2 separate regions of the Homo sapiens genome follow, and region 2 is reported to be linked to region 1. The links are microRNA targets in miRTarBase. Many come from high-throughput screens and were not tested one by one. Region 1 holds a microRNA gene; the other region holds the end of a gene's coding sequence.

Region 1 (4,548 bases):
CAGGGACCCCTTGACAATGGACATGTGCAAGAAGAGGAAAGGTTTTCTAAAGTACACACCTGACATGGCAGCCCCCACACTTGCACAATCCTTCCATGCCTTCCCACTGTCTTCCCTAAAAGGTTAACCTATTTACCCCACCCACAGGCCTCTGCATGACAGGTCTCTCCTCTCTCCCTTCTCCTACAGTGGTCCCAGCTTCCGGAGCCTTTGTAATTCTTTCTAAACTCCACTGTCTCTCTGTCTCGTTCATCTTGGTTTCTCAAATGCCTGATACATGGTATATGTATGAGTGAATGAAGAATGAATGAACAAATTACATTTCATAGGTATCTGAAACTCAAGATGTCTAAAACTCATCACCTTCCCTCCAAAGAAAACTCTTCCCTTCACCCTTCTGTGTTCACTGTCTCCGTGAACATCCTCATCAACCATCCAATCTCTGCAGCCACAAACTGGATGTCCCCCAACTCCTGCTCCTCCCTCTCCCTCCCCTCACTTTGTTGTCTAATCAATCTCTGGATACTAATCGTTTTACCTCGGGAATACCCTCTGATTCCATCCCCTTTCCTTTCCCCCTGCTGCCGTGGCTCCAATCTCTGTCTCCTGGCATATCCCTCTGAGTCCTTCCTCACTGTGAAAGCAGAGTGATATTTCTACCCTGACCATGACCCTGTCCTTCTTGAAGGCCTCCAGTGAGTCCCGCTTCCCTCAGGATATGCGCCCTGGGTGGTCTAGTCCAGCTACCCCGACTCCTGACAATGAGCTCCTTCCTGGTCTCCAGCCTCTCTGAACAGGCCAGGTGCTGTCACAGTGCCACATCCGTGCTCCTCAGACTCTACTTCTCATCTGGCTAACTCCTAGTCACCCTCCAGGATCCCACTCAACAGCCGCCGCCTCAGAAACTCTCCCCAACCCCACCTCACCCCTACTCCTACTCAGGGCCAACTGAGCTTCCGAGGAGCACCCTGCGCTGGCCTCTGCCATCAACCAGTAACCCGGGTCCTCACTGCCCACTGAAGGGCTCATCTCTCCCACTGCCCTGTGAGCCCATCAGCGGCAGGGTGCCCAGGGTCCAGAGAATACGCATGTCACTGTCTCCAGTGAGTTGTTCTTTCCACTGTGCTGCAACTTCATTTCACAGTCAGTCTAGCAAGCATTTCACACGCACATGCGCACACACACACACAAATTGAGACATGCATAGGAATGCACATACAGAGACACACACATAGTCATACTGACACACAGATGCACAGACACAAATAGCAGATCCCACAGACATACCTAGTGACCCACACAGAGGCATTCAAGCGTGGGCAGCCACTGATATACACATATGAACATGAACATCCATATCCATGCACATATGCACATGCATGCACAGCCCACATGGATGCACAGAAACACACAGACACACCCAGTCACAAATACATAGACCGGCAGACAAGCACAACAGGCACACAGAAATGTACATACACAGCCAGGTACAGTGACTCACGCCTGTAATCCCAACAATTTGGGAGGCCAAGGTGGGCGGATCATTTGAGGTCAGGAGTTCGAGACCAGACTGGCCAACATGGTGAAACCCCATCTCTACTAAAAATTAAAAAATTAGCCAGGCGTGTTGGCAGGTGCTTGTAATCCCAGCTACTGGGGAGACTGAGGCAAGAGAATCGCTTCAACCTGGAAGAAAAAAAAACAAAATGTACATACACACACATTCTGAGATGTACACATATAAAACCATAGACTCATATGCACTCATGCCCAGACCAACACAGGCACACACACAGACACAAGGATGCCCTCGTAGACAACACTCATGTCTATACAAGCAGCACGTGTGTTGTGTACAAGGGCATCCTTGTATCTGCTTGTAGAGACACAAGCAGCACGTGTGCATCCACACACAAGGACACATATGCATACCACAGACACTCACAAGAAGCAGCATTTACATTGGCCAACATACACAGATGTGTGCATGTAGACAGGCTCCCCGAGACAGGTTAGTGAATGATGCAGGTCAAACAGAGCTGTCTGCTAGGGGCGGGGGCCTGTCTGAGGTACCTCGGGGCGCTCACATTTTTGCAGCTCAGGAAGGCAGCTGACATACCAGCCCGGCTGTGATGGTATTTTGCATAAATGCTAATGTATTAATTACCATGTACAGTACACAGAGCTGCCATTTAAAAGAAAAAGTTAAGACTTTTTAATTCAAAAGCCCCATGAGGGGTGGGGGTGGGCGTGGGGTACCTGTCCTGCATGGAGGGTGGAGGCAGGCAGGGCAGCCACACCCATGCCCACTGTACCTGCACTTGGGTTGCCAAGCCTTCCCCAGGCCAGCCAGTCAGTCCTCTGCCTCAAGATTCTTGGTGCTTTCTGGGAACTCTGGCACAGCCTGGAGCTGCTGGCCCAGAAGAGGGCTGGGGAGAGTGTGGAAGGCAAGTAAGTCCTAAGCAGACAGAGTGGAGCATCCTCACAGCAGGGCTGGGGCAGGCGTCACAGCCAGAGGTCGCTAAGCATCACAGTCCCTCCCACCATTCAATCCATTCGCTGCACAGCAGCTGGAGTCATCCAGACAGTGGATCAGACTATGTCACGCCCTGCTTCAAACCTTTCAAAGGCTTCCTATTGCTCTCAGAACAAAGTTCACACTCCTTAGAAGGGCCTGCAAAGCCTGGCATGACCGCGTTCTCTCCTGCCTCACCTGACCTGGCTTCTCTCCCATCTCTCCATGCCTCTCCTGTCACACTCCTCCTTCCTCACTAGTCACCTGAGCTTGCCCGCTCTTCCCCTAAACTTCTCATCAGCCTAGCCTCAGCTCACCTGTCACCACCTCGGGAGACCTCCCCTGACTGCCCCTGACCGCCCTATCTGAAGGAGCCCTTCTCCCCCTCACCCTCTTTTACATCACCAGGGTTTGGGTTTTGGTTTTTTTGTCTTCATAGAACATTTTGCTGTTTCAACCCTCCTTGTTGATTTTTTTACTATCTGTTGCCCCCACTGTACGATGAGCTTTAGAAAGCCAGAACCTGAATGACCTTGTTTCCTCATCATATCGCAGCCCCTAGGATGGGGCCTGACACTGTGCAGGTGTTCAGTGGCATGTCTGTTAAAGGAGTGAATGAACTTGGAATGAACGAGGGATGCTGTTTCTGGCCAGCTCTGTCTCAGCGCCTAACTCTTGCAGCAGCACTCTCTCCACCTGCCTGGCAGGACCACCCTGGCTGTTCTGCCTCCCATCGGGGGCTCACATCCCAGATCCGGAGACTGAGGCCCATCATGGGATCATGTCCACCATCCCGTGACCTCTTAGAGGCTGGCGTCCAGGCCTCCCGAGCCTCCCACCAGCCCACCTCTCCTGCCACGTGGAAAGAAGCCTCAAATGATACAATTGAACAGCAACAACAAAACAGCTCCTCCACCCTCACCTTCATAGTCCACTTCCATATTAATTGTCGTATGCAGGCCCAGTGAGGCAGGCATCATTTCCCAAATTTCGTAAGAAATTAAGGTCCAGAGATATATGTGACTCCCCTAACGTCTCACAGCTCATCAGAGGAGTCAGGATTTAAATCTGTGTCTGAGGCCAGGTTCGGGGCTTCCTCCACTTACCAGTGACCTACTCTCCCCGAACCCTGAGGGATGCTCCAGGAAGCTAGGGCTCAGCAGTCATGGAAAGCCTCCCACATGCCTCCCAGGCCACCTCTTCCCCCAGGAAGCAGGAGAGTCGAGGTGGGCTTGCCGGGCAGGTGGAGAGAGCACCTGAGACACAGCTGGTTGGCTCACTTCCCAAACACAGGGTAGAGTCCTCAACCCCACCTTAAGGCACCCTCCCACACCCACTCACCTACCAGGTGCCACCATTCTAGGCCCTACGTCTCTCCCAAACTTGCCCTCTTCTCCTGGTGCCCACTGCCCCTGCCCTAATCCAGGCCGCATCGCTGTCATCTCTCACCAGGTCTCTTTTGACAGCCTGCAGTCTGGACCCCCATCTGCCCTCCACCCAGCAGCCAGAGTGATCTTCTCGAAGCTTGAATCCCATTGCCCTCCCCAGTGGCTTCCCCACTCCCCATCCAAGCTCCTCCTGAGATGGACCTCACGGTGGTTTGCAAATGTGCATCATTAAGAATGCATGTTTCCGTGGCCGGGGGGTGGTGGCTCATACCTGTAATCCCAGCACTTTGGGAGGCCAAAGTGGGCGAATCATTTGAGGTCAGGAGTTTGAGACCAGTCTGGCCAACGTGGTCTACCAAAAACACACAAAAAATTGGCTGGGTGTGGTAGTGCACGCCTGTAATCCCAGCTACTCGGGAGGCTGAGGCAGAATTGCTTGAACCTAGAAGGCGAAGGTTGCAGTGAGCCGACATCGCACCACTGCACTCCAGCTTGGGCAACAGAGCAAGACTCCATCTCAAAAAAAAAAAAAAAAAAAAAAAAGAATGCATATTTCCTAATTTCAGATCCTGGCTCTGCCACTTACTAGCTGTGTAACCTTGAGCAAGTCACCTAACTTCTCTGTGCCTCAACTGCCTGGTCTGT
Region 2 (3,000 bases), not on the chromosome of region 1:
TCAATGTTTCTAGGAAGCTGAGCTGAACACATTACGATGGATGATGGAAACATAAGGTACATTTCTTTTTTGATATTTCTGAGTTAATCTGAAACGCCTTAGCGGCAGGACGTTGGAAAGCTAAAGTTGGCCCGTTTTGCTGGCTTTTGTAGTTTGAGTTAACAACCAACTGAATTAGCTGATAAGATCTCAAAACAGTGAGGTAAGTACACAGCTCGGAGTTTTATAATGCTTTTTTTCTCTTGCAGACTATCAAGAAATCCAAGTGGTAATGGGCGAAGTTTATTCAGCATCCGGCAATGGACTTATCGTAGTTGGGGAAACGGGTGTTCCGAATAATATCCTGGAAGTTATCAGGACACCTATTTTAAATATAGGCCTGAATTTTGTAAAGTAATATTTAAGGTGGTCCGTGATAATTAAATAAAATGCTTAATTCATGTGGCTACTCATTGTTCCTTGACTGAGTGATTAATAGACGGAAAGGTAGTTAATAGCATAATACCTCCTATTTAGTGTTACACGCTCATGTGGAAGTAGTGTGAGTACAGTTCTAAGGTAATTGCAGCCTTTGTGAAAAATGTAAAATATAAAAATTACCAGGCTACCCCCAAGGGAGACAGCAGACTCTTTTTAAACCATACAAAAATTTAAGGCAGTTATACAAGGTGGAAAATTATGTATTTATTTACACAAATATGCACAGAACACTTGTATCTTTCAAAAGTCACACTTAAGACATAGTAAAAGCATGTTGTATGAACCATGTATTCTTAAGGATTGAGCAAACTGCAGGCTGCTTGCTGCCTTTTAGGTTTGCTAGTCCCTGATCTACTTGAAACAGATGTTGCTTGCCCCAACACTAGTTTAATTATAAGGGCAGCCTGTGAGAAAGTTTCAATAGACATTTTTCTCACCTATATTGCACGTTTTTCTGAAGCCCTTGTGCAAGTGTGTGTGCCATGTGTAGTTCTATTTACATATAAACGCTACTTTAAAAGTTTATCAAAATCATGAGTTTTTACAAAAGTTTTTAATGCTCTTCTGCATTATATGCAGCATTGCAAATCTGCAAAGTAGTAAAACTATAAAGCACCTTTAGGTTTGCACCAGTTATTACAGAAATGGGGATTTGTGAAAAGGATGTAATTTGATGTAGAAGGGCAAAGTCCTTTAATGACTGGCATTCAAGAGGATTACTTAAAACAATTTGTAAGTTCATGCTAACCTCTTCCCTATATTTATACTACTGGGACCTGGGGAAGGATCCATGACATGGAAGTATCTTGAGTGTGCCTTTTAAATTTGAGCATTACTGCTAAGAATGTTCTGTAAAGGTGCATAGTTAAGCAGCTATCCCTTAACTCTTGGAGAAATAGCCATAGGGAAACCAATCATTTAGGTAGGAGAACCATGGGGAAAAAAATCAGCATTTTTTCTGGAGTTTGGAATCAGTTTCACCAACTGGTCTCACTTTGAGGCAAGCCTGTTTTCCCCCATTTGAAAACAAGGGCTACTACCATAAGATTTACTGGCCTTTTGCAAATTGTCAGTGATGTGCAAAGCTGCCTAATGCAGTGCCTGGCATATGTTATAACTGCTGTATGTATTAGAACTTTTCAATGTGTAGGCCAGGAAAGCATTTTGACTAGTATATTTTAAGATTGGATTGTATCAGGTTGGGCTTGGGAAAACCTGCAGGTATAAGTCAGTTACAGGGAAGTGTCAGTGGGTGGCACTCTTACATCATGGTCGGGGAACGTGGACTATGATGAGGTGCTTGTTAAAAGCAAATATAGTAGATATGTTAATGTGTTGGATAAAATAGGTTGTATGTCCAGCTGGCATTTAGTTACCAGAAATCCTTTCAAATTTTGCTAGTTTATACGCTGTAGGTAGAAAGTATTTTTATCTTATGGTTTCTGTAGCACTTGGTACTCAACAAGGATACTTGTTTCCAAATATCAGATCACTTTGAGAATATATTGTGACAGGCAGATGTCCTTGAGGCTTTACTACTCCTATTCAGGCCTAAAAGTTTATAGTGGAATTCTTTAACCACTGATTTCCTCACTTGACAAAGGCTACAGAGAATATGAAGATTTCTTGTCAAGTCTTTTGAAAAGACCTAAGCATAAATATGCCACTCATGAGTGTAGTAAAGGGTACCGCATTTATGTCAAATGTGGGTATTTAATATGATTTCAGACACCACTGATTCAATTAAAAGGGGTTCTCAGTTCAAATGTAAAAATGATCTTTTGTAAAATCAGCATAGAATGATTTTGAGAAATAGGTAGGGGATAGATGAGGCTTAGAATAAGTCACTCCAGTGAAATTAGGGTAGAAAATGTTCATTTAAGGATTATCACTTCCACTACACTGAGGCCTCTGAAAATGTTCACAAATTTCTCAAAAGCAGCAGGGGGTACACAATTTTTTACCACAACACAAAGCAAAAACAGATCTTGCCATTTGTTGTCATCTCTGCTGAGTGCTAATAGTGGGGGTTCAAAGTTTTCCATTTGTTTAAATGCTGCTTTGAAGTTTCCATGAAGAATTACAGTTTGGTGACACTTTTTATCCAAGGTACAAAGGCTGAGACTTTGGTATAAACACCAGGAGAATCCTTGACTCCACAGCCATACCCCCAGGAGGTCACCCCATACACCACCCAGCTCTCTCCGGGCCGTTCACACATGAGTGGTCCTCCGCTGTCTCCCTGGCAGCTGTCCACGCGTTTGTGTTCATGGAGGTTTCCAGCACAAAGCATTCTCCCTGTAAACCGACCCTTATAACGTTCTTCACAAAACCTTTTAGGAAGTAAGGGAATGGCTGCTTGTTGTAGTGTTCTTGAATAGGCTCGTCCTACTCAGACCAAACATCTGATTAGTGGCATTCCAGATAACCATCGCAACATTTAACAGTTACTGAGCATGTAATAGTTATGAAAATAAAATCCCTGTTGTGGCATTAGTGTAGTTTAAAATGAGCAATGAC

What was found. Region 1 holds the annotated microRNA hsa-miR-3659 (UGAGUGUUGUCUACGAGGGCA, at 1,806-1,826, opposite strand). A microRNA usually pairs through its seed, bases 2 to 8, with sites in the 3' UTR of a target mRNA and lowers its output. Matches are read on the target gene's strand: a 7mer-m8 pairs with bases 2 to 8, a 7mer-A1 pairs with bases 2 to 7 and ends in A, and an 8mer does both.
Region 2: the mRNA of PRSS12 is a reported target of hsa-miR-3659. Seed matches in the 3' UTR shown: 7mer-A1 at 2,151-2,157 and 7mer-A1 at 1,288-1,294.

What each region holds. Positions count from the first base shown.
Region 1 is chr1:38,086,567-38,091,114 of GRCh38, reverse strand. It overlaps MIR3659 (microRNA 3659), which reads right to left and starts at 1,884; the gene lies at 1,786-1,884. All of the region lies in intron 1 of MIR3659HG (MIR3659 host gene), which reads right to left.
Region 2 is chr4:118,279,376-118,282,375 of GRCh38, forward strand. It overlaps PRSS12 (serine protease 12), which reads right to left. Exons shown (of 13, transcript NM_003619.4): 13 at 663-2,868. The coding sequence ends at 2,561. SNHG8 (small nucleolar RNA host gene 8) reads left to right here. Exons shown (of 3, transcript NR_034011.1): 2 at 14-56; 3 at 249-448. Among named protein-coding and RNA genes, the nearest start is that of SNORA24, 1.7 kb to the left of the region's middle.